2 separate regions of the Homo sapiens genome follow, and region 1 is linked to region 2. Evidence: fine-mapped expression QTL. A gene starts in region 2. The other region holds a variant in brackets. All regions are shown on one strand. Distances are from middle to middle.

Region 1 (15,523 bases), 120 kb before region 2:
GAACCATATAGGATCACAGGTATGAGGGCAACTCTCTAGGGACTCGAGAGTAGCAGTTTTTGGAATTCTGATGTACGATGCCTTGGAGCTTCCCGCACTGATCTCAAAGAGTGTCATTTCTGGATATTCACAGGGGCTTTCGCATATGGCAGATGTGTGTGCTGCTACCCCAGCACACACCAAAATCTGCAGATGCTCAATTTCCTTATATAAAATGATGTGATAGTTGTACAAAACCTATGCACTTTCTCCCAGATACATTAAATCACTTCTAAGTTACTTAGAATAACTGACAAAATGCAAATGCCATGTAAGTTCTTGTTTTACTGTGTTATTTCAGAAGTAATGACAAGGAAAAACAAGTTTGTACCTGTTCAGTACATGCACACCTCCGCCATACCCTTATTTTTGGAACAGTTTCCACCTGTGGGTTGTTGAATCTGCAGATTCAGGACCTAGTGACCCAGAGGCACCACTGTACTTTCTTATTTAAGATATTTCTACTTTGTGTCTTTATGAGAGGGGTCAAACTTGTATTCTAAACAAAAGAAATATGTTCTCTTTTTAAAATTACATTTTATTTTCTATGCATTTTGGATGAATGCAAACATTTCTGCATAGAAGTGACAGTAGAGAAAGACATGCCGAACATTAAAGTAGTCTGAAAGAGCTGAAATGAGACAGGAATCAATCACCTGTAGACAGAGACTGTCCCAGGAATTAGGAGGATATAAGAAGGAGAGAGGGATAGTCTCATTTGCTATGATGATTTGCTTTCCATTCTTCTCTATCCTGTTTGACACCCCAAGAGAGTGGCTTCTATGCACCACATCAGTGGGATTCTTTTTAATTCCAGTTTCTGGTGGAATTGAGACACTGGGAGACACCTGGATGAGACTGGAAGACAGCAGGAGAGCCACTTGGGATTTCCACCTCCTGGCTCTCTGCCTGTGTATTAGTTCATTCTTGAATTGCTACAAAGAAATACCTGAGACTGGGAAATTTATGAAGAAAACAGGTTTAATTGGCTTATGGCTCTGCGGGCTATGCAAGAAGCATAGCAGCTTCTGCTTCTAAGAAGGCCTCAGGAAGCTTCCAATCATGGTGAAAGGCAAAGGGGGAGCAAGTCATCTCACATGGTGAGAGCAGGAGCAAGAGAGACAGGGAAGAGGTGCTACACACTTTTAAACAACTAGATTGCATGAGAACTCACTATCACTAAGGCAATACCGAAGGGGGATAGTGTTAAGCCATTTATGAGAAACCATCCCCACTATTTAATCACCTCCCACCAGGCCCTCCCTCCAACACTGGGAATTACAATCAACCTGAGATTTGGTTGGGGACACAGATCCAAAGCATATCAGCCTGTGTGGCTGTGTGTTGGCCGTGCAAGGCTTCTCCACCTGCCTGCTGGAGCTCTACCACCCCTATGGCTACAGCTATGGCTATGGCGACAATGGTAACTGCTCCTTCCTTCTCCCTTTCAGCCTAGGGGAGGACTTAGTCCTCCCCTATGTATTGTTGCTTAGGGTGCTGACCCATGCATTGTCTCTTTCCCTTAACCTTGCACATCTTTGTAAATACTTCCCTCACGAAACACTCCTCAGTCATTTCAGTTTGGACCACCTATTTCTTCCTTGAACCTTTCCAGACAGGCAAGGAATAATAATTTAGAAAAGTAAGTAAAACAACAAAACCTGCTTCTACAGCAGTTCAACTCTGTGAAGCAATGCTTGCATGTCCTCTAGCTCCTTAAATGAATGTGAGAGGCAGCATTTTCTCTAAGAGGACAGGTTCAGTGATTGGAATAAGGGAGGTGATATGGACAGATAAATCAAATGGGGGGACTCCAGTTGAAACTCACACAGTCTGGGTTGGCAGCACTCAGTTTCCAGAAGGAAACTTCATGTCCCCTGTCTTTTCCTGAAACAAGCTCATGATCCCCTGCCTGTAGCACCTAGGTGGAAACAGAAACGATCTTATAGCAAAAACCATGACTGACTATGGAAGAAGACAAATCTTGGTACTTACCCTTATCTTTTTCTCCTTTGTCCAGTGGTGAAGACGTCCCTTGTGCTAAAGGTGGAGGGCCTTTCTGGGATTCAGTGACTTCAGAGAACCCTTCTGTGTTGCTTAATTCAGGAGATGCATACAGGAGCTGGAGTCAAAGCTGGTGAGCAATCCAGGCTTATGAAGATGCTGGACAGACTTGTTATTTCCTGTATGAGGACTATGGACAAATCAGTGGCCAGAGGTATTGGAGACACAAACCCTACCTGAGATGATTCTTGGCCTCTGTCCCATATCCAATAGAGATAAGCCTCTCCCATCACATTCCATCTTGTTCAACTTGCTTGATAAAAACAGTGGCGCAGTTTGAGAGAATGGACTCCCATTTTAAAAGAAGTTCTATTGTGTATAAAATGCTATGCAAATAGCATTGCATGCTACATTAAAATCTTTCATAAAAGGATGAGTCAGTTGATGTGGCAGACTTCACTGTTGTCTTGTTTTAAGATATTGGCACAGCCTGTCTTACCTTCAGCAGCCACTTCAGCAGCCATCAATATCAAGCAAGACCCTCCAGCAGCAAAACGTTTGGCTTGATAAAGTTTCTGATGCTGGTTACCATTTCTTAGTGAAAAAGTATTTTTTTAAGTAATGCATGCACATTGCTTTAGACATAATGCCATTGAGACTCAATAGAGTACAGTATAGTGTAAGCATAAATTTTACATGTACCGGGACACCAAAAATTCATGTGATTCACTTTATTGTAATATTTGCTTTATTGCAGTAGTGGAAGTGGACTTCTAATATCTTCAATGTATGCCTATTATGATAAAGGTTGTATATCAAAGTAGTGTGTAAAACAGGCACAATTGAATGAATGGGATTGGGACAACTGAGTTTCTGTGTGAAATAAGTAAAGGTGGAAACATACTTTACATATGATTTGAGGATACATGCAAATACACTACTTAAAATTTTATAATGAAAATACAATTACCTGGAGAAGCCATAGCCAAATAGTTTTTAAATCAAAGTGGAAAAAGACTTTCAATTATAGGATACAATTCAGAAGATATTAAAGAAAATATTTATAAAGACAAAAAGGCTAGCTGTGATGGCCCATTCCTGTAATCCCAGCACTTTGGGAGGCTGCGTGGGTGGATTGCTTGAGCTTACAAGTTTGAGACCATTCTGGGCAACATAGTGAAAACCCGTTTCTACAAAAAATACAAAAACTAGCCTGGTGTGGTGGTGCATGTCTGTAGTCCCAGCTACCTGGGACGTTGTGGTGGCAGGATGGCTTGAGCCCAGGCCGTGGAGGTTACAGTGAGCTGACATCACACCATTGCACTCCCCTGGCTGATAGAGCCAGACTTTGTCT[C/CA]AAAAAAAAAAAAAGTTATTTTTTTTAGCATAACATTAACCATCATAATCAAGATATAAATAAACTGTGGCCAGGCATGGTGGTTCACCCCTGTAATCCCAGCACTTTGGGAGGCCAAGGCAGGCAGATCACCTGAGGTCAGGAGTATGAGACCAGCCTGGCCACCATGGTGAAACCTGGTCTCTACTAAAAATACAAAAATTAATTCGTTGTGGTGGGACACGCTTGTAATCCCAGCTGCTCGAGAGGCTGAGCAAGAGAATGGATTGAACCTAGTAGACGAAATTTGCAGTGAGCCAAGACTGTGCCTCTGCACTCCAGCTTGGGTGACAGAACGAGACTCCATCTCAAGAAATAAATTAGTAAATTAATAAAATTAAATAAATAAACTGGGAGATGTTTGGTAATGTATGTTATAGCCAAAGTATAAATTTTCTCTATTGATACAAATTTTTCTAAATGATGTTAATAATTCAAAATTGAAAAAGGTAATAAGAAAATAACTTTAAGTCATGATTCACAATTTCTAAAAAATAAAAATGGCTCCTAAACATATGGAAAGAGGAGAAATTCAACTCATAATGAAAGACATGCCAATTGAAATTACAGAGTTATATTTTATTTACCAAAATCTAAAAAACCATTAAGTTTTATAGCATACAGTGTGGGGATGGAGTGGGATCAGGTACCCTCACTCATTTCTGCTGGGGATGCAGATGGATACAACTTCCAGTGAAGGCTGTTTTCAACATATGGAAGCATGTATAAAGCACCATCCTTTTCTCTCTGTAATTCCTCATCTAAGAATTTATCTTAGAGATATATTTGTGCATGTTCAAAAGATCTATGTTCTGAGTTAATAAATGCAGTGTTATTTACAGTCAAAAACTGGTAACAGCCAAAATGGCCATCAATACTGTATAAATTACTGTCTATCTATGCAATAGAATACTCTGTAGCTACCCAGAAAGAGCAACAAACCTGATATAAAAGGCCCTGCAGAATTTGTTAGATTTTTTAAAAAGAATGCAGACCAATGTATATATTGTATGAAAAATATATATATTGTTTTATTATTAAATATTTGTGAATTAATATACACTTATTAGTAAGTATAATAGGATATGTCTTTGTTAACAAGGCAAGGATGCCTGAGGACCTAAAATGGGAATGACAGTTTTCAGTGAGTGTATTTAAAGATTATTTTTGAAAGCTTTGACTTTATTACCATGTCACAAATAAATTTTCAAACAAAAAACATAAATTTAATGATCTAGCTAAGAGAGGGAGTTAGAGATATGAGAAGATACAAGGAAGGGTGAGGAAATGAAGATAATGAGTACAGAAATCTCTTTGGAAGATATTTTTTTCTAAAATAAAGAAGATAAATCAGGCTGTGGATAGAGACGAATGGTTGCTTAGATGGTGTTTTATGCCACAAATAGGATGGGGTGTTTCAGTTGCAATGGAAGGATCCATTAGAGAAGGAAACATTGAAGATGTAGAAGGGAGAGGCAATAATGCTATAAAATGTTTCTGGGGAGGCAAAAGGGGAAACTGCACAAATGGAAAGGGTGGTTTCAAACAGGAATTTGCAGAGCCCATTTCCTGGCATGAGAGAAAATGCAGAGAGGTGTGCTCAGAGGCACATGGGGAGGTAGGTTCCCTCTGGGGAGATTGAGTAATTCTCAGAAGAGCATCACCTGACAGTGATTAAAAAAATAAATAAAGAGTAGGCGGTTTCAGGAGAGAGAAAATGTCGTGAAGATTTTCCTTTGGAGAGTGAGAGGCAATTATGGAAATGTTACGTGAGTGTTCAGGAGATATAAATGGACCTTTCAGGTTCAAGGTTATAAATGTACAGTGAAACCGCTGGGCATGGTTGTGTGTTGTGCTGCAGCCACACTCTGTTCTATGGGAACAGGCATGGAGTTAGTGGAGAGCTGGATTCAAGCAGGGTAAAAGACGAACTGATACTTCAGCAAGGACATATATGCATGACAAATAAACACATAAAAAGATGCTCAACATCACTAATGTTTAGGACAACAAATAAAAGTCACGAGATACCACTCTACCCTCTCAATATGGCTAAAATATAAAATACTGATAGTTTCAAATATTGGCTGAGATTTGAAGGAATTGGAGGTCTCATACACTGCCAATGAGAAAGTAAAATAGTAGAGCTACTCTGGGAAATCTTCTTGCATTTTCATATAATCCAGCAATCCAGCGTATCCTAGAACCTGGAAAATGTATCCTAGAAACTGGGAAACTGTGTTCACTTAAAAATCTGTACAGGAGGGGGGCCAAGATGGCCAAATAAAAACAGTTCTGGTCTGCAGCTCCCAGCGGGACCAACGCAGAAGACTGGTGATTTCTGCATTTCCAACTCAGGTACCCAGTTCATCTCATTGAGACTGGTTAGGCAGTGTGTACAACCCACGGAGAGCAAGGAGAAGCAGGGTGGGGCATCGCTTCATCTGCGAAGTACAAGGAGCCAGGGGACACCTGTCCCCCAATCAAGGGAAGCTGTGAGGAACCCTGCTACCAGCCCAGTACTACGCTTTTGAAATGGTTTTTGCGATCCGCAGATCAGGAGATTCCCTCGTGTGCCTACACCACCAGGGCTCTGGGTTTCAAGCACAATATTGGGCAGCTGTTTGGGCAGAGACCGACCTAGATGCAGGAGTTTTTTTCATACCCCAGTGGTGCCTGGAACTCCAGTGAGACAGATCCGTTCACTCCCCTGGAAAGGGGGCTGAAGCCAGGGAGACAAGTGGTCCCCTGCCTCAATGGGTCCCACTCCCACAGAGCCCAGCAAGCAAAGAACCACTGGCTTGAAATTCTCACTGCCGGCGCAGCAGTCTGAAGTCGACCTGGGGCGATTGAGCTTTGTGGAGAGAGGGGTATCCGCCATTCCTGAGGCTTTAGTAGGCGGTTTTCCCCTGACAGTGCTAAGAAGGCTGGGAGGTTTGGACTGGGCGGAATTCACCACAGCGCGGCTAAGCAGCTATGGCCAGACTACTTCTCTAGATTCCTCCTCACTGGGCAGGACATCTCTGAAGGACAGACAGCAGGCGCAGTCAGGGGTTTACAGATAAAATTCCTATCTCCCTGGGATGGAGCACGTGGGGGAAGGGGAGGCTGTGGGCGCAACCGCAGCAGATTTAATCTTTCCTGCCTGCTGCCTCTGAAGATAGCAGCTGATCCTGACAAGGGGGGTTCTCCCAGCACAGTGCACCAGCTCTGCTAAGGGACAGATTGCCTCCTCAAGTGGGTCCCTGACCCCCGTGCCTCCCAACTGGGAGAGACCTCCTAACAGGGGTGGACAGACACCTCATACAGGAGAGCTCTAGTTGGCATCAGGCCAGTGCCCCTCTGGAATGAAGCTTCCAGAGAAAGGATCAGGCAGCCATCTTTTGCTGTTCTGCAGCCTCCACTGGTGATACCCAGGTGAACAGGGTCTGGATTGGACCTCCAGCAAACTGCAGCCGACCTGCAGAAGAGAGGCCTGACTGTTAGAAGACCAACTAGCAAACAGAAAGCAATAACATCAACATCAACTAAAAAGACCCCCACACAAAAACCCCACCCAAAGGTTATCGGCCTAAAAGATCAAATGTAGATAAATCCAGAAATATGAGGAAAGCAGTGCAAAAATACTGAAAATTCCAAAAACCAGAAAGCCTCTTCTCCTCCAAACTATCGCAACTCCTCTCAAGCAACAGCGCAAAACTGCATGGAGAATGAGACTGATGAATTGACAGAAGTAGGCTTCAAAAGGTGGGTAATAACAAACTCCTCTGAGCTAAAGGAGCATATTCTAACCCAATGCAAGAAAGCTAAGAACCTTGATAAAAGGTTACAGGAACTGCTAACTAGAATAACCAGTACAGAGAGGAACATAAGTGACCTGATGGAGCTGAAAAACACAGCACAAGGACTTTGTGAAGTATACACAAGTATCAATAGCTGAATCAATCAAGCAGAAGAAAGAATATCAGAGGTTGGAGATCAACTTACTGAAATAAGGCATGAAGACTAGATTAGAGAAAAAAGAATGAAAATGAATGAACAAAACCTCCAAGAAATATGGGACTATGTGAATAGACAAACCTACAATTGATTGGTGCAACTGAAGGTGATGGGGAGAATGGAACCAAGTTCAAAAATACACTTCAGGATATTATCCAGGAGAACTTCACCATCCTAGCAAGACAGGCCAGCATTCAAATTTAGGAAACAGAGAGAACAACACTAAGATATTCCTCGGGAAGAGCAACCCCAAGACACATAATTGTTAGATTCTCCAAAGTTGAAATAAAGGAAAAAATGTTAAAGGCAGCAAGAGAGAAAGGTCAGGCTACCTAAAAGGGAAGCCCATCAGAATAACAGCGGATCTCTTTGCAGGAACTCCACAAGGCAGAAGAGAGTGGGGGCCAATATTCAACATTCTTAAAGAAAAGAATTTTCAACCGTGAGTTTCATATCCAGCCAATCTAAGCTCCATAAGGAAAGAAGAAAAAAAATCCTTTCCCGACAGGCAAATTGTAAGGGATTTTGTCATCACCAGGCCTGCCTTACAGGAGCTCCTGAAGGAAGCACTAAATATAGAAAGGAAAAACTGGTACCAGCCACTGCAAAAACACGCTAAAATATAAAGACCAATGACACTATGAAGAAACTGCATTAACTAATGTGCAAAATACCCAGCTAGCATCAGGCAAATTGGATAAACAGTGAAGACCCATAGGTGTGCTATATTCAGGAGACTCATCTCACGTGCAAAGACACACATAGGCTCAAGATAAAGGGATGGAAAAATATTTGCCAAGCAAATGGAAAGCAAAAAAAAGCAGCGGTTGCAATCTTAGTCTCTGATAAAACAGTCTTTAACTAATGAAGATCAAAAAAGACAAAGGAGGGCATTACATAATGGTAAAGGGATCAAGGCAACAAGAAGAACTAACTATCCTAAATATATATGCACCCAATACAGGAGCACCCACATTCATAAAACAAGTTCTTACAGACCTACAAAGAGACTTAGACTCCCACATAATAATAGCAGGAGACTTTTACACCCCACTGTCAATATTAGATCAAAGAGACAGAAAACAAGGATATTCAGGACTTGAACTCAGCTCTGGACCAAGTGAACCTAATAGACATCGACAGAACTCTCCACCCCAAATCAACAGAATATACAGTCTTCTCAGTGCCACATAGCACTTATTCTAAAAATCGACCACATAACTGGAAGTAAAATACTCCTCAGCAAATACAAAAGATTGGAAACAATAACAAACAATCTCTCTGACTGCAGTACAATCAAATTAGAACTCAGGATTAAGAAACTCACTCAAAACCACACAACTACATGGAAATTGAACAACCTGCTCCTGAATGACTACTGGGTAAATAACAAAATTAAGGCAGAAATAAAGACGTTCTTTGAAATCAATGAGAACAAAGAGACAATGTACCAGAATCTATGGGACACAGCTAAAGCAGTGTTAAGAGAGAAATTTATATACCAAATGCCCATATCAGAAAGCTGAAAAGGCTTGAAATCAACACCCTAACATCACAATTTAAAAAACTAGAGAAGCAAGAGCAAGCAACTTCAAAAGCTAGCAGAAGACAAGAAATAACTAAGATCAGAGCAGAACTGAAGGAGCTAGAAACACGAAAAACCCTTCAAAAAAATCAATGAATCCAGAAGCTGGCTTTTTCAAAACATTAACAAGATAGATAGACCACTAGCTAGACTAGTAAAGAAGAAGAGAGAAGAATCAAATAGACACAATAAACAATGATAGAGGGGATATCACCACTGATCCCACAGAAATACAACTACCATCAGAGAATACTATAAACATCTCTAAGCAAATCAACTAGAAAATCTAGAAGAAATGGATAAATTCCTGGACACATACACCCTCCTCCGATGAAACCAGGAAGAAGCCAAATCCCTGAATAGACCAATAACAAGTTCTGAAATTGAAGCAATAATTAATAGCCTATCAATGAAAAAAAGTTCAAGACCAGATGGATTGACAGACAAATTCTACCAGAGGCACAAAGAGGAGCTGTTACCACTCCTTCTGAAAGGATTCCAAACAACAGAAAAAAAAGATCTCCTCCCTAACTCATGAGGCCAGCTTCATCCTGATACCAAAACCTGGCAGAGACACAACAAAAAAAGAAAATTTCAGGCCAATAACCCTGAGGAACATCGATGTAAAAATCCTCAATAAAATAATGGCAAACCGAATCCAGCAGCACATCAAAAAGCTTATCCACCACGATCAAGTCAGCTTCATCCCTGGGATGCAAGGCTGGTTCAACATATGCAAATCAATAAGTGTAATCCATCACATAAACAGAACCAATAACAAACACCATGTGATTATCTCAATAGATGCAGAAAAAGCCTTTGATAAAATTCAACATCCCTTCATGTTAAAAACTCTCAATCAACTAGGTATTGATGGAACATATCTCAAAATAATGAGAGTTAATTATGATAAACCCATAGCCAATATGATACTGACTGGGCAAAAACTGGAAACACTTCCTTTAAAAACTGGAAACAAGACAGAAATGCCCTCTCACCACTCCTATTCAACACAGTATTGAAAGTTCTGGCCAGGGAAATCAGGTAAGAGAGATAAATGAAGGGTATTCAAATAGGAAGACAGGAAGTCAAACTGTCTCTCTTTGCAGATGACATGATTGTATATTTGGAAAACTCCATCATCTCAGCCCCAGAACTCCTTGAGCTGATAAGGAAATTCAGCAAAATCTCAGGATACAAAATCAATGTACAAAAATTACAAGCATTCCTATACACCGATAATAGAAAAGCAAAGCGCCAAATCATGAGTGAACTCCCTCTCACAATTGTTGCAAAGAGAATAAAAGACCTAGGAATACAGCATACAAGGGATGTGAATGACCTCTTCAAGGAAAATTGCAAACCACTATTCAAGGAAATAAAAGAGGATACAAACAAATGGAAAAAAATTCCATTCTCATGGATATGAAGAATCAGTATCATGAAAATGGCCATACTACCCAAAGTAATTTATAGTTTCAGTGCTATTCCCATCAAGCTACCCTTGACTTTCTACACAGAATTAGAAAAAACTACTTTACATTTCATTTAAAACCAAAAAGAGCCCATATTACCAAGACAATCCTAAGGAAAAGGAACAAAGCTGGAGGCATCACGCTACTTGACTTCAAACTATACTACAAGGATACAGTAACCAAAACAGCATGGTACTGCTACCAAAACAGATACATAGACCAGTGAAACAGAACAGAGACCTCAGAAATAACACCACACATCTACAACCATCTGATCTTCAACAAACCTGACAAAAATAAGCAATGGTGAAAGGATTCCCTATTTAATAAGTGGTGCTGGGATAACTGGCTAGCCATGGGCAGAAAACAAAAATTGGACCCCTTCCTTACATTGTGTACAAAAATAAACTCAAGATGGATTAAACACTTAAATGTAAAACCCAAAACCATAAAAAAACCCCAGAAGAAAATCCAGGCAATCGCATTCAGGACATAGGCATAGGCAATGACTTCATGATGAAAACACCAAGAGCAATTGCAAAAAAAGCCAAAATTGACAAATGTGATCTAAGTAACCTAAAGAGCTTCTGCACAGCAAAAGAAACTATCATCAGAGGGAACAGGCAACCTACAGAATGGTAGAAAATTTTTGCAATCTCACCATCTCACAAAGGCCTAATATCCAGTATCTTAAAGGGAGTTAAATAAATTTAAAAGAGGACAAAGTTCCTCTTTGCCCATCAAAAAGTGGGCAAAGAATGTGAACAGACACCTCTTAAAAGAAGACACTTATGTGGCCAACAAACATATGAAAAAAAGCTCATCATCACTGGTCATTAGAGAAATGCAAATAAAAACCACAATGAGATACCATCTCACAACAGTCAGAATGGTAATTATTAAAAAGTTAGGAGGCCGGGCGTGGTGGCTCATGCCTATAATCCTAGCACTTTGGGAGGCCGAGGTGGGCGGATCATGAGGTCAGGAGATCGAGACCATCCTGGCTAACATGGTGAAACCCTGTCTCTACTAAAAGTACAAAAAATTCGCCAAAAAAAAAAAAAAAAAAAGTTAGGAAAGAACAGATGCTGATGAGGCTGTGGAGAAACAGGAAAGCTTTTATACTGTAGGTAGGAGTGTAAATTAGTTCAACCATTGTGCAAGACAGTGAGAAGATTTCTCAAGGAGGTAGAACCAGAAATACCATTTGGCCCAGCAATCCCATTACTGGATATATATCCACAGGATTATAAATCATTCTAGTATAAAGACACATGCACATGTATGTTTATTGCAGCACTATTTACAATAGCAAAGACTTGGAACCAACCCAAATGCCCATCAATGATAGACTGGATGAAGAAAATGTAGCACATATACACTATGGAATACTATGCAGTCATAAGAAAGAATGAGTTCACGTCCTTAGCAGGGACACGGATGAAGCTGGAGGCCATTATTTTCAGCAAATTAACACAGGAACAGAAAACCAAACAACGCACGTTCTCACTCATAATTGGGAGTTGAAAAATGAGAACTGTTGAACACAGGGAGGGGAACATTACAGAACACATCCTGTTGGGTGGTGGGGATCAAGGGGAGGGAGATCATTATGACATATACCTAATGCATGCAGGGCTTAAAACCTAGATGATGGGTTGATAGGTGCAGCAAACCACCATGGCAGATGTATACCTATGTTAGAAACCTGCAGATTATGCACATGTATCCCAGAACTTAAAATAAAATAAAAAAGTCTGTACACATACGTGTATAGCTGCTTTATTTATAAATGCCACGTTAGAAAAAACAGCAATGTCTTTCCACTTGTGAATAGTGAAACAAAGCATAGTACATCTATACAATTGAACACTACTCGGTAGTATAAGAAAGTCAGCAATAAGCTATTGATAGCTGGAAAATGTTGGGTGGATTTTGAGGACATTATGCTGAATAAAAAAAGCCAAAGTCAAAAGATTAGATACTGTATGATTCCATTTATGTAACCCTTTCAAAATGATGAAATTACAGACATGAAGAATAGATCAGTGATTAGAGGGATTTGGGAAGAAGCACACTGTGTGTGTGACAGTAGGAGAAGCCCAAGGGAATTCTTCTGTGGTAAAGAAACACTTCTATATTCAATGTGATTGTGTTTATGAATCTACACCTGTGACAAAATATTATGGAATGAAACATAGAGGAATATCTCACTCCAAAAATGAGTGCATGCAAACACTGGTAAAATTTGGTAAGATTGTGCTGTAGTTATTTGGTGAAATCTGATAAGATTTACAGTGTAGATAATTAGATGGGATCAATGTCGATTTCCTGGTTTTGACAATACATTTATTTAACTTGTAAGTATTGCTGTAGGTCGGGTGATGGGCATACAGGAACTCTCTGTACTGCTTTCACAACTTCTTCGTAGTCTACAATTAATTCACAGTAAAAACTTAAAAACCAACTGAAAGGCCAGTTCATTGTATGGACTTATCTCCATGGATATTGAAGTCACCAAAAATGAGGACATGGGTTATGCTGGAAGGAAGTTTGTAAACCAGGCACATACGCTAGAAGATAATGTAGTAAGCATTAACAGACATCTTCCACAAAATTAAGCACATATTAAATTGTTATCATATTTGTTTCCAATAACTCTTAAAATGAATACATACACTGTTACAGATACAACTTAAGGCTGATTCATGCATCTGTACTCTCAGCAATAATCGTACATGTCTTTGATAATAAGGCAAGGGTGCCTGCATACCTGGAATGGAAATGACAATTTTCTTCAATTTCAGAACGTCTGCGGTTGATATGTATTATTCTCTCACATGTGTACCAAGATGTTAAAACAGCAGTATTAAACCAAATGTCAAGACACTATAGATATTATGTTACAAAGAGGTGCTAGGTGACACAGAATTTGAATAGGAATTTTTGATTACCCATATCAAGCTATGCAGAATTTAGGTCTGAATTTTTATGTGACAATTACAATGTTGATTTAATTCACAGATTAACTGTCTCCCTTACTCCCAATGTGGGCCTTTTGCAGGTAAAAATGCTGCTCCAGAGAAGGGCCTGCATTCCATTGCTTCTCTCTTCTCCCCTAACCCCCACACATTTTTTTTGTTTTTTAATCCATGCCTTCTGGCCCTGGAGGTCTGGATATATCACTGTGAGGAGGGTAAGGAGAGCAGGGCATTGATTTTGGTTTGTCCTGTTGGCCTGACATGCCTGGTCCTCTCTGGGCTTACATTATTATAGAGCTCACTCCTACGAATGTCACAAAACTAACAGCAAGCCCTATCACTTCAAGGCCACAAAAGATAATGCTCATTATTTAGAGCACTCCAGCCTTGTGATTCTATTTAAGAGGAATCTTGCCGCCATGACCAAATACATGAGGTGGCACAAGGAGTAAAACTCATATATGAATTATTCACCATTCCCTAAAAAACTCTATGCTTTTATTAACAGTGCCACTGTAAATTATCTCTTCTTCCATTTCCATCTGTTAGATCCTATTTACCTCTCTTTGCCCAATACAAAAATCTACGTGACTGGCAAAATTTACAGAGGGTATAATTATAATAATAATGCTGAGTCAATTGTAGTCATCAGTTAAAATTCTACCTATTACACGAAGCCTTCCATGATCCACTCACTTCTACCTACACACTCAGGAATGAGGTCTGCCCTGTCTCTGCTCTCCTTCCTTGTGTTTGCATCCTGCAAAGCTCCAGAACAATTGGACCAATATGATGGGCATGAGCATTGAGATTTCTTTTTCTATACTCTGCTGTCACTGCTAGATAATAGAAAACACACGCCATCTATATCTATATCCAGCATTGATACATTGACAATAATGGTGCCCAACTGATACCAGACAGTCATACAGAGCAAGCATTTCAGCAGACTTTTCAGACTCTAGGTCACTGCCCCATAGTTGAGAAGAACATTCACTTACTGTGATTACAGTCACTGTGTAGAGACGTAAATTTCTCAGGCTGTCAGGATCATAACAGTAGTTATCTTCAGTCCATGGTTACGGTAAAATCACACCTTACCCACATATTCTGAAAAGAGATATATAAGCACAAATGCACAAATGACACAGTTTCAGGCTGGGGCAATCCCATAACCTCACTTCTGCTTGATTTGCCGCGAAGGAGCATCTGACCCATGTTGGCCATGCAGTCAGCTTGAGAATCCCAAATTCCTGAAACCAGGTCCAGTGTTCTTCCCATTCTGGCACTTGCATATCCTGCTTCCCTATATATCTTAGGATTTCTAGATATTAGTTGGGTTTGCCTGGAGGCAAGGGCTTCTTCTGCTGAAACACAGGGTAATGGTAGTAGGTAGTCCTGCAACGCCTGTGACCTAAGCACCTGCAGGGTCTCTAGAAAATGCTTTCAGGAATTGTGCATTTGTGCGATGTTAGACTATAGACCAAGCGCTGTTGTAACATTTAGCCTGTTAATCTTATAATGTCATCAATTATAGAACTGTTGCTGAGATTGTTGTCTTGCATGAGCAGTCACCTGGTGCACATTCTCTTATTTGTTGGAATTATATTGTCCTGCTTCAGCTGGGTGCTTGGGTGTGGCATTCCTCTTCAGGATGGCAGCAAGATAACTTGGAATTTTTAGATACCCTCTCCTCTGAACACCCTTGAGCCACAAACACAATGCTTGGATAGCATGTGTCACATTGGGAGGCAGTCTTTCCTGCACTAGTGTCCTTCCTTCACAGGCTGTGAACTCTGTGAACGTGGGTATGTTTACTTTGACTCCCAAGTGTCTGGCATGAAAGCTAGAAAATAGATGATGCTCAGTGTGTATTTATACAATAAACAGTAGAAAAAGTGAGAGATATTGCTATGAAAAACCCACTTAATGATATATTCAGGAATGCAAGTGCGTAGATTAATTGAAAATGACTGTTAATCAGTATTAACAAAAATGATACATTTGTAATATGAACATTTCAATTTTACCAGAATTCATTCACTAT
Region 2 (15,523 bases):
TGGCTTATGCCTGTAATCCCAGCATTTTGGGAGGCTCAGGCAGGTGGAGTACTTGAGGCCAGGAGTTCAAGACCAGCAGAGTCAACGAGGTGAAACCCCATCTCTACTAAAAATTTTTAAAAAATTAGCCAGGCGTGGTGGTGCACGCCTGTAATCCCCGCCCCAGCTACTTGGGAGGCTGAGTCATGAGAATCGCTGGAACCCAGGAGGCAGAAGTTGCAGTGAGCCAAGATTGTGCCACTGCATTCCAGCTGGGGTGACAGAGTGAGACTATATCTAAAAAAAAATAGATGTTAAAATTTATTTTTATTTTAAGTTATGGGGTACATGTGCAGGATGTGCAGGTTTGTTACACAGGTAAATATGTGCCATGGTGGTTTGCTGTACCTCTCAACCCATCATCTAGGCATTAAGCCGAGCATGCATTACTTAGTTTTCCTAATGCTCTCCCTCCCCTCACCCCACCCCCCGACAGGCCCCAGTGTGTGTTCTTCCCCTCCCTGTATTCATGTGTTCTCATTGTTCAGTTCCCACTTATAAGTGAGAACATGTGGTGTTGGTTTAAAGAATAGATTTTTAACATTCACATTACACACACAAATAAGTTGGTAAGGTGATGGATATTTTAATCAGCTTGATTTAGTCTTTCTACAAGGTATACATTGATCAAAACATCACATCGTGCCCCATAAATATATGTAATTGTTAAAAATAAATAAATATGTAAAAATGAATAGGCAAACCACCAACCAGATAAGTATAATACACATAACTACCAAAAGAATCGTTCAGCATATGAAAAAATGTATACAAATTAATAATGAAAAAGATAAATACTTAATAAAAATAGGCAAAACTTAAGCAGACACTGCCAAAAAAAAGAGTAGCTAAAAAGCACTTAAAAGATGCTCAATTTAATAAGTCATTATGGAAATGCAAATTAAAACACAATGAGATACTATTTAACACTCATTACAATGACTAAAATTCAAAGACTGGCAATACCATGTTTGTTGGGAACATGTGGAGCAACTGGAACTCTCATACATTGCTGGTGGGAATGTGAAATGGTACAAACATTTTAGAAAATAGCTTGGTACTTTCTTATAGAATTAAGTATACATCTTTCCTTGATCCTGCAATTTCATTCCAGGTTGTCTATACAAAGAAATGTAAACATATATCTACAAAAAGACTTGAATAAGAACGTTCACAGCAGCTTTATTTATAATAGCCAAAAAATTCATAACACATCACATATATATCTGTCAGTATGAAAATAGTTACACCATAGTACACTCACACAATTAAATAGTACTCAGCTTTATGAAAGGAACAAACTACTGATACATGTGATGCAATAACATAGGTAAATCTTCAAAATATTATGTTGAGTGCAAGAGCTAGAAACAAAAAATACACATATTATGATTCTAAAAAGATACAGTTAAAGGTCAGGCAAAGCTAATATTTGTTGATTGAAATAGAAACAATGGTTGCCTCTGGGGGCAGGAAGAATGAGGAAGCACAGGGGAACTTTTAGAGATGATGAAAATATTTTGTCTTGAATGAAGTTTGAGTCACATAGGTGTATTCATTTAACAAAACTCATTAAGCTGTACATTTATGATCTGTGCATATCATTCTCTTAATTATACCTTAATTAAAAATAATAAAAAATTATTAAAAGATGCAGCATTTACAATTAGTATTTTATTCTGTGGAACACGTAACTTTTAAAAATATGTGCAATTTAATTAACAAAATAAATGCTCCGAGTTCTTCGGAATAAAAGGTAAATCTGACATACAGCCTGTCCTCCAAGAACATGGAGTCTATAAGACCACTGGAAACTTCCAGGACGAATTAGAGAGCCCCCAGAGAGGGAAGATTAGAACAAAGGCAAAGGGGAAGGAATGGGAAGGCGTGTAGCTGGGATTTTAAGGGATGGCATGTGAAAGGAAACCACAGGAAGACAGTGTACCTCAAACTTTAAATATGTGTTGACATTGATTTATCTAATTATAAAACTTAATTTCATGTTTGCAAAATTCAAAAGTAGTGAAAGCAATAAATTTAGTGACTCAAATCTGGTAAATGGAGACTTTTCAGAGGTTTAACTTAAACATTAACCAGTTTATTCATTCATTAAGCCATTCAACAAAGATTTATTAAGCTAGGGGGATATTCTAAGGTCTGCCAAAATGAAAGACGACTGCTCTTTTGGAGCTAGTTTTAAATTTAATTCTTCTAATTTTGTTGAGACAGAAATTGTACGGAAGAGAAAAAGAAATTAATTAAAAATATAACATTCTTTGAGTCCCTATCAAGTGCAGTGTCCAAAGAAATGTAGATCTTTTCTGCCCTGCTTTCAGCCTTCTGCGAAAGGTAGGATTCATTAAAAGTGGGAACAGTCATGGACCGCAGAGTTGGCAAAGCTCTCATAGGGCTGTGGTGGAAGCCTGTGAGTAAGGCAGTTCCAGAGACACTGCACTTAGTGTTTGTTTCATAGGCACTGTCTCACTTAATCCTCACAAGGACTCTCTTAACTGTTTTAAAATCAGGACTGAGAAAGTTCAGCAAATCAGACAGACAGGGGCAAAGTTGCCTCTCAAAGCCACATATATCTGATGGAAGTAGAGGCTGTCCATCTCTACACCAGACTGCTTCTCGACATCTCCGGGGTGCCCTGACGGAAGCATCCTTCACTGTGATCCACCTCAGCAATGTCCTGCAGAGCCCTCTGGAGAGCCAGCTTGAGGATCGGCTGCTGCAGCCGCCACTGCTTCCTAAAAGAGCCCACGAAGAAGTAAATGATGGGGTTGGCACTGCTGTTAAGAGATGACAGGACAACTGAAACTGGATGAATATGACAAAATAAGACATCAGAATCCTTCCAGATCCATAATATTAGGAACCACTGAATGCCAAAGGGCAGGCCGCAGAGGAGGAACACCAGCACTGTGAGCAGGATGGTCAGGTACAGCCTGGTCAGTGGCAGACCCCTGGAGCCACAGAGGATCCTGACCAGCAGGGCCAGACTGGACCCACAGAGAACCATGAATAAAAAAATCAGCCACGCTGCAGTGATGAAATCAAATGTCTGACACCAACCAGAGTCACCATCACTAAATAAGAAGCCACAGAACTTCCCTTCCAAGATGCTCAGCAGTAGGGACAGGGCCCAGAGCAGGACACACACGACCGCTGACAGGTGTCTGGGGCGGCGGCAGCGATACCAGATGGGCCACAGGACGGACAGGCAGCGCTCGGTGCTGACGGTGCTCAGCATGCTCAGGCCTGCAAGGTAGGCACAGGTCATCACAGTGGTGAAGAAGCTAGGGAAATTGATGGAGATGGAACAGAAGAAGTTACTGAGGTACACCAGGCAATTTATAATCTGGAAGCAGAGGAAGAGGAAGTCGGCCCCGGCCAGGCTGAGGACGTAGACAGAGAAGGCGTTCCTGCGCATGCGGAAGCCCAGGAGCCAGAGCACAAACCCGTTTCCTACCAGCCCGACCAGGGCAATGAAAAGGATCAGGAAGACCGGGATCAGGGTCTCCTTGCCACAAAGCAGAAGAAGGGCTTGGTCATTTCCATTCACTGTTGTACTTTCTGTTCCCCAGGCCGGGGTGGTTGGATCCATGCTCAGAAAACCTCCACTGGTGCCCCTGGAAACAAAAACAAGACTTGAGCACCTGCTGCATGTTCACTGATTTTCATGACCAGCCTGTTATGTGGTAATTACCGCCCCTGTTTTACAGGAGAGGAAATCAGAGGCTTGAAGAGATTAAGTCATTTATTAAGGGCCAGGGAGTCCTAGCACCTGGATTCAAACTCATTTCTTGCTGACTCTAAATCCTGGGCTCTTTCTATTACAAGGTAGATCCTCTGCTGGTATGGGAATATTCTAAGGCCCAAACACCCCCACTCACTGTCACTGTGTCATGTCTCCTGGAGGCAGGAAGAGAAAAGTCTAGGCAGAATATGTGGGGCAGCAAGAGACAGTACTCTGAGTTCAGGATTCTTTTTATCCTGGCATACAGATTTCCTCTCAGGGGCCAGAAGAAATGACCCAGGCCATGACCCATGGCCACCCTTAATGACTGAGAGGAGTCCATCAACAGTCAGAATGGAGATTGTGATTTAGGGTCATAACGGAGAGGTGACTTCTTGCTAGGACAGGTCTGAGGACAGCCAGGCCTGTCAGACTAGAAATTGCTCAGTGGGTCAGCTTTATGAAAACAGAAAGAGTTTTTCTCTTATCCATTTCTGTGTCCTCAGTGCCTAGCTCAATGTGAGGGCATAGTGGAGGGTCAAGAAGTTTGTACCACATATAAATGAATGAATGAATGCATGCATGCATGCATGGGGAGCCAAGAGTAGTTGAAAATTTGGGCTAAGTGGAACACCAACATTTTAAAATGAAATTAGTCACTAAAAAACACACATGTAAAGAAATGAAGAAAACATCATTCTTCATGTTTCCTTCTGGGAAAGCTCTGGTGTATTTGAAGGGATTGCTTCTGCCTACACAGATAGTGAATAATGGCCACTGTCATATCTTCAATCCAGGAAGGGCTAGTATATGGCTTTTGCTCAGCACCCAAAAGAGTTTAAACTTCCAGTTTATGGAGAGGATTCAGGGTTTATCTGAATTTCTCTGCATCTTGGAGGAAAAGGGGGCAATTTGGGAAAAGGAGAGAGAGGCAGCAATTGAGAGTGTCTAGTGTCTAGAGGTAACTAGAGGGTGTTGTGGTATGAATACATCTAAGGTGGACCCATTACTTCCCCCAGATGATTTTGAGCTTTCTTTGCAAATTAAAGCATTTGTGAACAGGATTATTTGGGGAAAGGAGTGGGAAATTAGAAAAAAGAACCATGTCTACACTGTGCAGGGCTTTGAGGGGAAAAGGCAGATGCTTATGCAAATTACACTTGGGAAGGAGCCCTTACTCATAATGGGGTGAATAATAGCAGCTGGCTGAATGCTCTTCAGGTATAGCCTCTTTAAATCTTCTTCAGAGCCTGGTGAGGTCAGTACTATTATTAGTCCCATTTTACAGAGAAGGAGATTAAAGCACAAATGTATTGAGTAATATGCTTCAGGTCTCACAAACAAGTGGTAGAGCCTGCATTTGAACCCACAGGTCTGTGTCAGAGGGCTTGTTCTTAACCAGCCTTGCAGCCCCATTGCAAGGGTTCAATACCAACTACACATGAAGAAAGGAGAAAAGCAACAAGTAATGCTCATATCAAATCCAAAATGGAATGTCGAAATTGCAGTTTTTTAAGCCTAGATTAAGCAACTTTAAGAAACAGTAAGGAAGAGAGATTAATCAAATAAGGAGAAGAGATATGAATAGAAGCCAACTGAGAATAAGCAACTGAATGCAAGAGCTCTTTCTTGCTTCAGAAAAACAGCCGTCAATCACTCCACACTGCAGAAAACTCTCATGGGTTGGAGGCCTCCAAGGGGAAAGTGAATGTGTCCTCCATGGGGGTGCAGAATTGGCATCAAGGACTGAATGCATCCATCACATGCTGTCTTAGTTCCTGTAGCCCTGGTTGGCCTTGTGAGGATATGGAAGAAAACCACTTCTGTTGTCCTCCCTCAGGGCAGGTTGGCCTTTTTATTCGTGGCACTGAACACAGTTTGCACCTGTATTTTTTTTTTTTTTTGAGATGGAGTCTCGCTCTGTCACCCAGGCTGGAGTGCAGTGGCTCGATCTCGGCTCACTGCAAGCTCCGCCTCCTGGGCTCACGCCATTCTCCTGCCTCAGCCTCCCGAGTAGCTGGGACTACAGGTGCCCACCACCACGACTGGCTAATTTTTTGTATTTTTTTTTTCAGTAGAGACGGGGTTTCACTGTGTTAGCCAGGATGGTCTCGAACTTCTGACCTTGTGATCTGCCCGCCTCGGCCTCCCAAAGTGCCAGGATTACAGGCGTGAGCCACCGTGCCCGGCCCTGCACCTGTATTTTTAAGTGTATGTCTGTTTTTTCTTTTACTTCCCTCATTAAGCTCAACATTTTTGTTGTGGTTGTTCACTATTATATCCCCAGCCTCCAACACATATCCCTTGGAGGCCATCTATTGTAATACGCTCATTTAACAAAGAAAGACAGGCTTAACGTGTACAAAAGAGTTTCCTGAATCACATGGTGAAAAGCAGGTCCAATACCAGCTCCAGTCTCCTGGGGCCCTGTCCTAGGTTTATTTCTGTTCCATGTCTACATCATTCACTATTTGTGAGGCAGTGTTGAGAAAAATCTCCAGGTGAGCACAGATGCTAAAAGAGAATCGGGCTATAGAGACTGCTTGTTGCCCCAAAAGCCATTCTCCTTTTCTCACACATAATAATTCTGAGTCTTAGATCAGAAAAAGGCCCATTTCTCAGCTTCCCTTTATGCTAATGGCACCATGTAACCATATGTGATGGTCAAGGGGAGGTGAGAGAAAGTGATATAACCAGCTACTCCTGTACTCTTTCTTTTTTTCTCTTCTCTCTGGCTGGAATGCTGATGTGTTTGGGAGCCATGTAGGACCATGAGGGTAAGGGTACCGCTTTAGGGATGGGGAAATAGAAATTGGAAGGAGCCTTGATGTTTGATGTCTTAGAGTTATCAGCCCAAGTCTAGTAAACATTCTTTTTGATTATCACTATAATAGGTTTCTTTTTAGAGAAGCCAAAATCATAAACTTACATTACACATACCTGTGTACTTATAGCTGGGAGTACCTATGTACTCCCAATCCCTTTTTTTCCCAACCACATTCCATTCTCAAGGCATTTATGATGATAGTGAGAGACTAGTCCAAAGAAGTGACACTAGATGGGAAGGTCAAACAATTAAAAAAAAGGGAGGTGATAGAATGAGAAATTGATTCAATCACATTAATAGAGAAAGTCTCAGGAAAGACAAACTGAGAAGAGGCTATGGGAAGAAATGGACTTTCCTATTTGCTATTAGGATCTCATGTCCATCCTTCTCTACCTGCCTTTGCATCCTGGGAGGAGACATGTCTGTGCCTCGTCAATGGGCTGTCTTTCACTCAGGCTCCAAAGGGTACACATTGACAGGAGATTGGAGGGTGACTTTTTTTTTCAGCCAAAGGGACACATTGACAGTAGATTGGGGGATGATTTTTTAAAAATTTCCTGGCTCTCTCCCTGCGCCCTGAAGGGCTGTGAGTTGGCAGTGGCAGTGTTTTTCTACCTAAGGACATAGCCCTGCCTGGTGGCCCTTTCCTGTAGCCACAGCTATAGTTACAGTTACAGTTACCGCTACAGCACATTCTGAGTTCTCAGAACTTCTCTTTCTCCTTATCACTTCAGACCTAGCAACGGTAACAGCCCTCCACTATCACTTGCCTTTGAGGGCTTCATCATTCCTTAATCCCTGTTCACGCCGTTGTAAACAGTCTCTTCACTAAACTCCTCTAAACTACCCCTTTAGAGTGTGTGATGTGTGTTTTCTGCTGGGACAATGACAGATATGAAGGAAAAACCTTTTGAATAACAAGAAAATCAGTGCAACCTGAGGTTTTAAATAACAATTTAGCTTAGGGAAGTAATGACTTCATTCTAGCCTGCCCCTAAATTAAAATCAGCAAAATCTTTCTCTCCATAGTTTCAGATTTGAATGGTCGAAGAGAAGGGGAGAATATTGGTAGATAGAAGAGAAGTGGGACGAACCTGCTTGACCCCATTCGGATCTCCCAGCATCTAAGCTGCCAGCATCCAAAGCTTCCTCAAAGGAGCTTCCTGTCTTCTTTTCCTAATGAATTCATCAGGATGTGGACTAAGGTAAAAACCAAAACTGCCTTTGAAAGAAGATGGTTCTTGAACAAACTCTTACCTTAACACCCTTCTTTCTACTGGAGTTGGTGAGTTGAGAAGTGCTTTCCTGGGACTGGCAAACAGCTGAGGATGGGGAGATGCCTGCAGGATCTGGAGTGAAACCTGATGACTGAGTGAAGCTTATCAAGATGCTCAACAACCCTGTGATTTCCTGTACAGAGGGTGCTGGAAAATAAGAGTATGACACAGGAAACCACATGAGATGTTTCTCAGCATTTGCCCTGACTCCAATCACTTATCTTGGTTTCTCCCCTACCCTCTCCGGCCCCACTCCCTGCAAGGAATCACCGTCCTGAAGTCTTTCATTGCCCACAATGAGCATCCAGGAAGCAGACCAATCAAGCGACGTGAGCTTTCATAGCTAAAGAATAGTCTGCCCTCTTCTGCTTGGCATTCAAGGCCCTGGCTTACTTGACCTTTCAAAATCAGGTTTATTTCAAATGACACTAAGGTGTATAAAATGAAATGCAAAGTCTCTCGAAGTCTCATTCCCCAAAAGCAACCACTGCATACAGTTTCCATTCTTTTTTTTAAAAAAGCTTTGCGTAATAAAACAACATTTCTATTTTTGATTTATCGATGTTAACAACTAGATATATTGAGTCTCCTTATAAAATATAGGGGACTTAGCACATCACATGCACCATCTGTCACGTTTCTCCCTCTACATCATGATATTTATTAGCTAGATTATTTTTAGATCATCTAGAGCCAACCAATATTTTCAGCCTTATCTCCTATGACTTCCTTTCATGTGCCTATGCTGCAGCCAAATTGAGTTATAAGTAACAATTATGAAGCATTTAAGACAATCAGAAGAAATTATTCACTCATTTATTCATTCATTCAACACTGTTTATTGTTTGCCTATGATATGTCAGGTACCGTTCCAGGCAATGAAGACACAATGATGAACACCATACAAGATCATGCCCCTTTGCATTCCAGAGCAGCTGGGTGACCTCAGACAGGGAACATGTGTTGATTGAGGCGAGTTCTGAGACTCAGCATTTTCTTGTATTATACTTTGGTGCAGTGGGTAAACCATGCATTTGTCCCCAGAAATCTGCTTTCCTCATGAGCAGCAGCAGGACCTTAGAAAGCTTTAACTTCTGTTACTGTCTAACCTACTGTGCTCTATTATTTGATTTTGATTCTGTTTCCCTCCAACAAATGAAACACTTATTATTGTTTTAAATAGTCAGTGTTTATTCAGATTTATCCACATAATCACCAATGCTTTTGCTCATCCTCCCATTTTACATCTCATATCTTCCATTTCTCAAAACACATTCTTCAGGAGTTCCTTCTGTGAGAGTCTCTGCATGGTAAATGCCTCCTTTTATCTATCTGAAAATGTCATTGTTTCACCCTCGTCTTCTAAAGATGGTTTTTCCAGGCATGGCATTGTAGGGTGATAGTTTCTTTCTTCCAGCACATTGAAGATCCATGTTCTGACTGCCAGGGTTACTGTTGCGGCCATCAGTCAGGTTGCCATTTGCTTGTGGTGATCTGCCTTTTTTTCCTCTAAGAGCTTTTATTTTTCTCTGCTATGATACATTCTCACCAAATTGTATCTGGTGACTCTTTTTCAAATCATGTTTGGGATTTGTGGAGTTTCCTAGATTTTAAAATTATCATCATTTAACATTTTTAAACAATTTAATGCTATAATCTCTTTAAATATTAACATAACGGTGAAGAACACAAGACCAGGCTACTTGGCATTTCTCCTATGGGACCTTAGCCAGATTTTGTAACTCTGTTATGTTTGTTTCCTCATCAGTAAAATGGGGATAACATTATTAATCTATAGGTTTGCTGTGAAGATTAATAATTTAATGTATATAAATGATTTACAATAGGAGCACATAGTAAGTACTATAAAATTATTAGCTCTCATTATCACTTTTAGTATTATCTCTTTCTGGAAGTCTAATTCAACATATGTTAGCCCTCTTCTTCTATCATCCTTATTTCTTTAACCTTTTCCTTATGTCTCGTCTCTGTCTCTGAGGCTGCTTTCTGGGTAATTTCTTCAGATGTATCTTCCAGTTAACTAGATTCTTTCCATTGTGTCTAATCATCTGTTTAATCTATCCACTGAAGTTTAAATCCAATTTTTATATTACTAATTTCTAGAAGTTCTATTTTATTTTTTTAAAATTATACTTTAAGTTATGCGATACATGGGCAGAACGTGCAGGTTTGTTACCTACGTATACACATGCCGTGGTGGTTTGCTGCATCCATCAACCCGTCATCTACATTAGGTATTTCTCCTAGTGCTATCCCTCTCCTAGCTCCCCACCCCCTGAGAGGCCCCAGTGTGTGATGTTCCCCTCCCTGTATCCATGTGTTCTCATTGTTCAACTCCCACATATGAGTGAGAACATGCAGTGTTTGGTTTTCTGTTCCTGTGTTAGTTTGCTGAGAATGATGGTTTCCAGCTTCATCCACGTCCCTGCAAAGAACATAAACTCATCCTTTTCTTACGGCTGCATAGAATTCCATGGTGTATATGTACCACATTTTCTTTATCCAGTCTATCATTGATGGGCATTTGGGTTGGTTCCAGGTCTTTGCTATTGTTAATAGTGCTGCAATAAACGTATGTGTGCATGTGTCTTTATAGTAGAATGATTTATAATCTCTTGGGTATATACCCAGTAGTGGGATTGCTGAGACAAATGGTATTTCTGGTTCTAGATCCTTGAGGAATCGCCACACTGTCTTCCACAATGGTTGAACTAATTTGCACTCCCACCAACCGTGTAAAAGCGTTCCTATTTCTCCACATCCTCTCCAGCATCTGTTGTTTCCTGACTTTTTAATGATTTCCATTCTAACTGGTGTAAGATGGTATCTCATTGTGGTTTTAATTTGCATTCCTCTAATGACCAGTGATGATGAGCATTTTTTCATGTTGGTTGGCCATATAAATATCTTCTTTTGAGAAGTCTCTGTTCATATTCTTCACCCACTTTTTGATGGAGTTGTTTATTTTTTCTTACAAATTTGTTTAAGTTTCTTGTAAATTCTGGATATTAGCCCTTTGTCAGATGGATAGATTGCAAAAATTTTCTCTCATTCTGTAGGTTGCCTGTTCACTCTGATGATAGTTTCTTTTGCTGTGCAGAAGCTCTTTAGTTTAATTAGATCCCATTTGTCAATTTTGGCTTTTGTTGCCATTGCTTTTGGTGTTTTATTCATGAGGTCTTTGCCCATGCCTATGTCCTGAATGGTACTGTCTAGGTTTTCTTCTAGGGTTTTATGGTTTTAGGTCTTATGTTTAAGTCTTTAATCCATTTTGAGTTAATTTTTGTATAAGGTGTAAGGAAGGGGTCCAGTTTCAGTTTTCTGCATATGGCTAACCAGTTTTCCCAACACCATTTATTAAATAAGGAATCCTTTCCCCATTGCTTGTTTTTGTCAGGTTTGTCAAAGATCAGATGGTTGTACATGTGTGGCATCATTTCTGAGGCCTCTGTTCTGTTCCACTGGTCGATATATATGTTTTAGTACCAGCACCATGTTGTTTTGGTTACTGTAGCCTTGTAGTATAGTTTGAAGTCAGGTAGTGTGTTGCCTCCAGCTTTATTCTTTTTGCTTAGGATTGTCCTGGCTATACAGGATCTCTTTTGTTTCCATATGAAATTTAAAGTAGTTTTTTCTACTTCTGTGAAGAAAGTCAATGGTAGCCTGACGTGGATAGCATTAAAACTATAAATTACTTTGGGCAGTATGGCCATTTTCACGACATTGATTCTTCCTATCCATGAGCATGGAATTTTTTTCCATTTGTTTGTATCCTCTCTTATTTCCTTGAGCAGTGGTTTGTAGTTCTCCTTGAAGAGGTCCTTCACATCCTTTGTAAATTGTATTCCTAGGTATTTTATTCTCTTTGTAGCAATTGTAAATGAGAGTTCACTCATGATTTGGCTCTCTGTTTGTCTATTATTGGTGTATGGGAATGCTTGTGATTTTTGCACATTGATTTTGTATCCTGAGACTTTGCTGAAGTTGCTTATCAGCTTAAGGAGATTTGGGACTGAGACAATGGAGTTTTCTAAATATACAATCATGTCATCTGCAAACAGGGACAATTTGACGTCCTCTTTTCCTAATTGAATACCCTTTATTTCTTTTTCTTGTCTGATTTCTCTGTGCAGAACTTCCAATACTATGTTGAATAGGAGTGGTGAGAGAGGGCATCCTTGTCTTGTGGCAATTTTCAAAGGGAATTCTTCCAGCTTTTGCCAATTCAGTGTGATATTTGCTGTGGGTTTATAAAAAATAGCTCTTATTATTTTGAGATATGTTCCATCAGTACCCAGTTTATTGAGAGTTTTTAGCATGAAGGGGTGTTGAATTTTATCGACAGCCTTTTCTGCATCTATTGAGATAATCATGTGGTTTTTGTCATTGGTTCTGCTTATGTGATGGATTACATTTATTGATTTGCGTATTTTGAGCCAGACTTGCATCCCAGGGATGAAGCCGACTTGATCATGGTGGATAAACTTTTGGATGTGCTGCTGGATTCGGTTTGACAGTACTTTATTGAGGATTTTTGCATCAATGTTCATCAGGGATATTGGCCTGAAATTTTCTTTTTTTGTTTTGTCTCTGCCAGGTTTTGGTATCAGGATGAGGCTGGCCTCATAAAATGAGTTAGGGAGGAGTCCCTCCTTTTCTATCATTTGGAATAGTTTCAGGAGGAATGGTATTAGCTCCTCTTTGTACCTCTGGTAGAATTTGGCTGTGAATCCGTCTGGTCCTGGGCTTTTTTTGATTGGTAGGCTATTAATTACTGCCTCAGTTTCAGAAGTTGTTATTGGTTTATTCAGGGATTCGACTTCTTCCTGGTTTAGTCTTGGGAGAGTGTATGTGTCCAGGAATTTATGCATTTCTTCTAGATTTTCTGGTTTATTTGCATAGAGGCATTTATAGAATTATCTGATGGTAGTTTGTATTTCTGTGGGCTCAGTGGTGATATCCCTTTTATCATTTTTTATTGTGTCTATTTGATTCTTCTCTTTTTTCTTCTTTATTAGTCTTGCTAGCAGTCTATGTATTTTGTTAATCTTTTCCAAAAACCAGCTGCTGGATTTATTGATTTTTTGAAGGGTTTTTCATTTCCCTATCTCCTTCAGTTTTGCTCTGATCTTAGTTATTTCTTGCCTTCTGCTAGCTTTTCAATTTGTTTGCTCTTGCTTTTCTAGTTCTTTTCATTGTGATGTTAGAGTGTCAATTTTAGATCTTTCCTGCTTTCTTCTGTGGGCATTTAGCGCTATAAATTTCCCTCTAAACACTGCTTTAGCTGTGTCCCAGAGATTCTGGTATGTTGTGTCTTTGTTCTTATTGGTTTCAAAGAACTCATTTATTTCTGCCTTAATTTCTTTATTTACCCAGTAGTCATTAAAAAGCAAGTTGTTCAGTTTCCATGTAGTTGTGTGGTTTTGAGTGAGTTTTTTAATCATGAGTTCTAATTTGATTGCACTGTGGTCTGAGAGACTGTTATTATTTCCATTCTTTTGCTTTTGCTGAAGAGTGTTTTACTTTTAATTATGTGGTCAATTTTAGAATAAGCGCAATGTGGTGCTGAGAAGAATGTATATTCTGTTGACGTGGGGTGGAGAGTTCTGTAGATTTCTATTAGGTCTGCTTGGTCCAGAGCTGAGCTCAAGTCCTGAATATCCTTGTTAATTTTCTGTCTCATTGATCTGTCTATTATTGACAGTGGGGTGTTAAGCTCTCCCACTATTATTGTGTGGGAGTCTAAGTCTCTTTGTAGGTCTCTAAGGACTTGCTTTATGAATCTGTGTGCTCCTGTATTGGGTGCATATATATTTAGGATAGTTAGCTCTTCTTATTGAATTGATCCCTTTAGCATTACATAATGGCCTTCTTTGTCTCTTTTGATCTTTGTTGGTTTAAAGTCTGTTTTATCAGAGACTAGGATTGCAACCCCTGTTTTTGTTTTTGTTTTTTTTTGCTTTCCATTTGCTTGGTAAATATTCTATTCCTCCATCCCTTTATTTTGAGCCTATGTGTGTCTTTACACATGAGATGGGTCTCCTGAATACAGCACACCAATGGGTCTTGACTCTTTATCCAATTTGGCAGTCTATATGTTTTAATTGGGACATTTAGCCCATTTACATTTAAGGTTAATCTATTTGATATTTTGTTTTTCTACTTTCATAGTCATTTTTTCATTTCTTGATGCTGACTTGTGTTGTCAATTCTTTCTTTTATGTCTTTAATCCTATTAAGCATGGCAATATTATAATTATCTGATAATTCTAGTGCTAAAGTCTATGTGTGTGTGACTTTACTGTCTGTAATTTCTTCTGGCACTTTCATGTGATTTGTTTGTGATTTTTGACTGTGAGTTGCCACTTGCCTTGGGAGCTTATTTGTGGAAATTCTTTAAGGCCTGAATTGTAGTTGAGTTCTTTTAGAGAGGTCTTCTGTTTTCTTTTTCTAATTGACTGGAGGAACTTCCCAATGTGCTTTCATGTATCAGGTTGTCCTCAGAAACCTCATTTGTCATTTGAAATTTTAGGAAGACCACAGGTTGTATGAATTTGGATCACAATGTGATACTGATTTATGGTTATAAATTCTCAAGAAGAGCTTTTTGTTTTGGTTTTGTTTTGTCTTTTGATGTTGTTGTTGTTGTTTTTGTTTTTGTTTTCCCCAGAGCCAAGTGTGCATCAGGCAGTTTCTTGGCAGTTGTATTTCTCATGAATGAGAATACACTAAAGGTTCGGTCTTTTGAAGTCCTGCATTTTCATGACATTTTCCTGTTAGACTTTCCACCATGAGTTGTTCTAAACTCTTTCATTCCTTTTAAGCTTGTAGCCATAATACGAAATGAGAATCTCCTTCTGAGAAGAAAGGATAACCATTTAGGAAATGAATTGATCACGTCTGTGCTTCAGAAAAGTCTTATCAGGCTGCTGAATGTACAAGATATAGAATATAGATGAAAACATAAATCACTGGTTATACTTCCACATGGAAACAACTGCATAAATACTTTAGTATATGCATACAAAATACACAATTGATATTGTTTTATAATATGTGGTTTATTTCTAATTTGATAATTACTGATTGTGGGATCTCCAACATAAATGGCAACTCTTTTGATCTCAGTTCCCCATCTGTAAAATGGGATGCCTTACAGTTGTGATGAATCTGAAACTAAGAGAACTCTGGTGCCTATGGAGGTTTCTCTCCTCCAAGTACCAAAGAGAGTAGAGAGCTCAAATAGGCCTCTCTCTGAGGCCAAACTTGGATTCCAGGATGACTCTCATCTTTTAGATCCTTAGTGGCTTCCAGAGTTTTCATAACTATGATGAAGTCATCAACCTAGGCCCCTCTCCATGGCTTACAATGTGATATTTCAATATATGTATACAATGTATAATGATCAAATTGGGTTCCTTAACATATCCATCACCACAAACATTTATCATTTCTTTGTGTTGGGAATATTCAAAATATACTCTTCTAGCTATTTAAAAATATACAGTAAATTGTCATTAATTATAATCACCCTACATTGCCCTAGGACTCTACAACTTATTTCTCCTATCTAGCTGTAATTTTGTATCTGTTAGCCAAAATTAGGCTATCCATCTGTCC

Which allele goes with the higher level. Alleles are on the strand shown, and positions count from the first base shown. SD is a standard deviation of normalised expression in the study named.
For the expression in subcutaneous fat of the gene that starts at base 7,961 in region 2, CA is the low allele of the variant in region 1 and C is the other (large effect, 1.0 SD a copy in FUSION).

The links.
Region 1: its variant is fine-mapped to the expression of MRGPRX2 in subcutaneous fat (FUSION, PIP 0.95).

Annotation. Positions count from the first base shown.
Region 1 is chr11:18,937,246-18,952,768 of GRCh38, forward strand. It overlaps MRGPRX1 (MAS related GPR family member X1), which reads right to left and starts at 2,169. Exons shown (of 2, transcript NM_001393578.1): 1 at 2,035-2,169. RefSeq lists an enhancer at 5,811-6,312. The variant C/CA (reference allele first, on the strand shown) is at 3,398.
Region 2 is chr11:19,052,757-19,068,279 of GRCh38, forward strand. MRGPRX2 (MAS related GPR family member X2) reads right to left here and starts at 7,961. Exons shown (of 2, transcript NM_054030.4): 1 at 7,863-7,961; 2 at 1,699-3,671. The coding sequence starts at 3,646. The coding sequence ends at 2,654.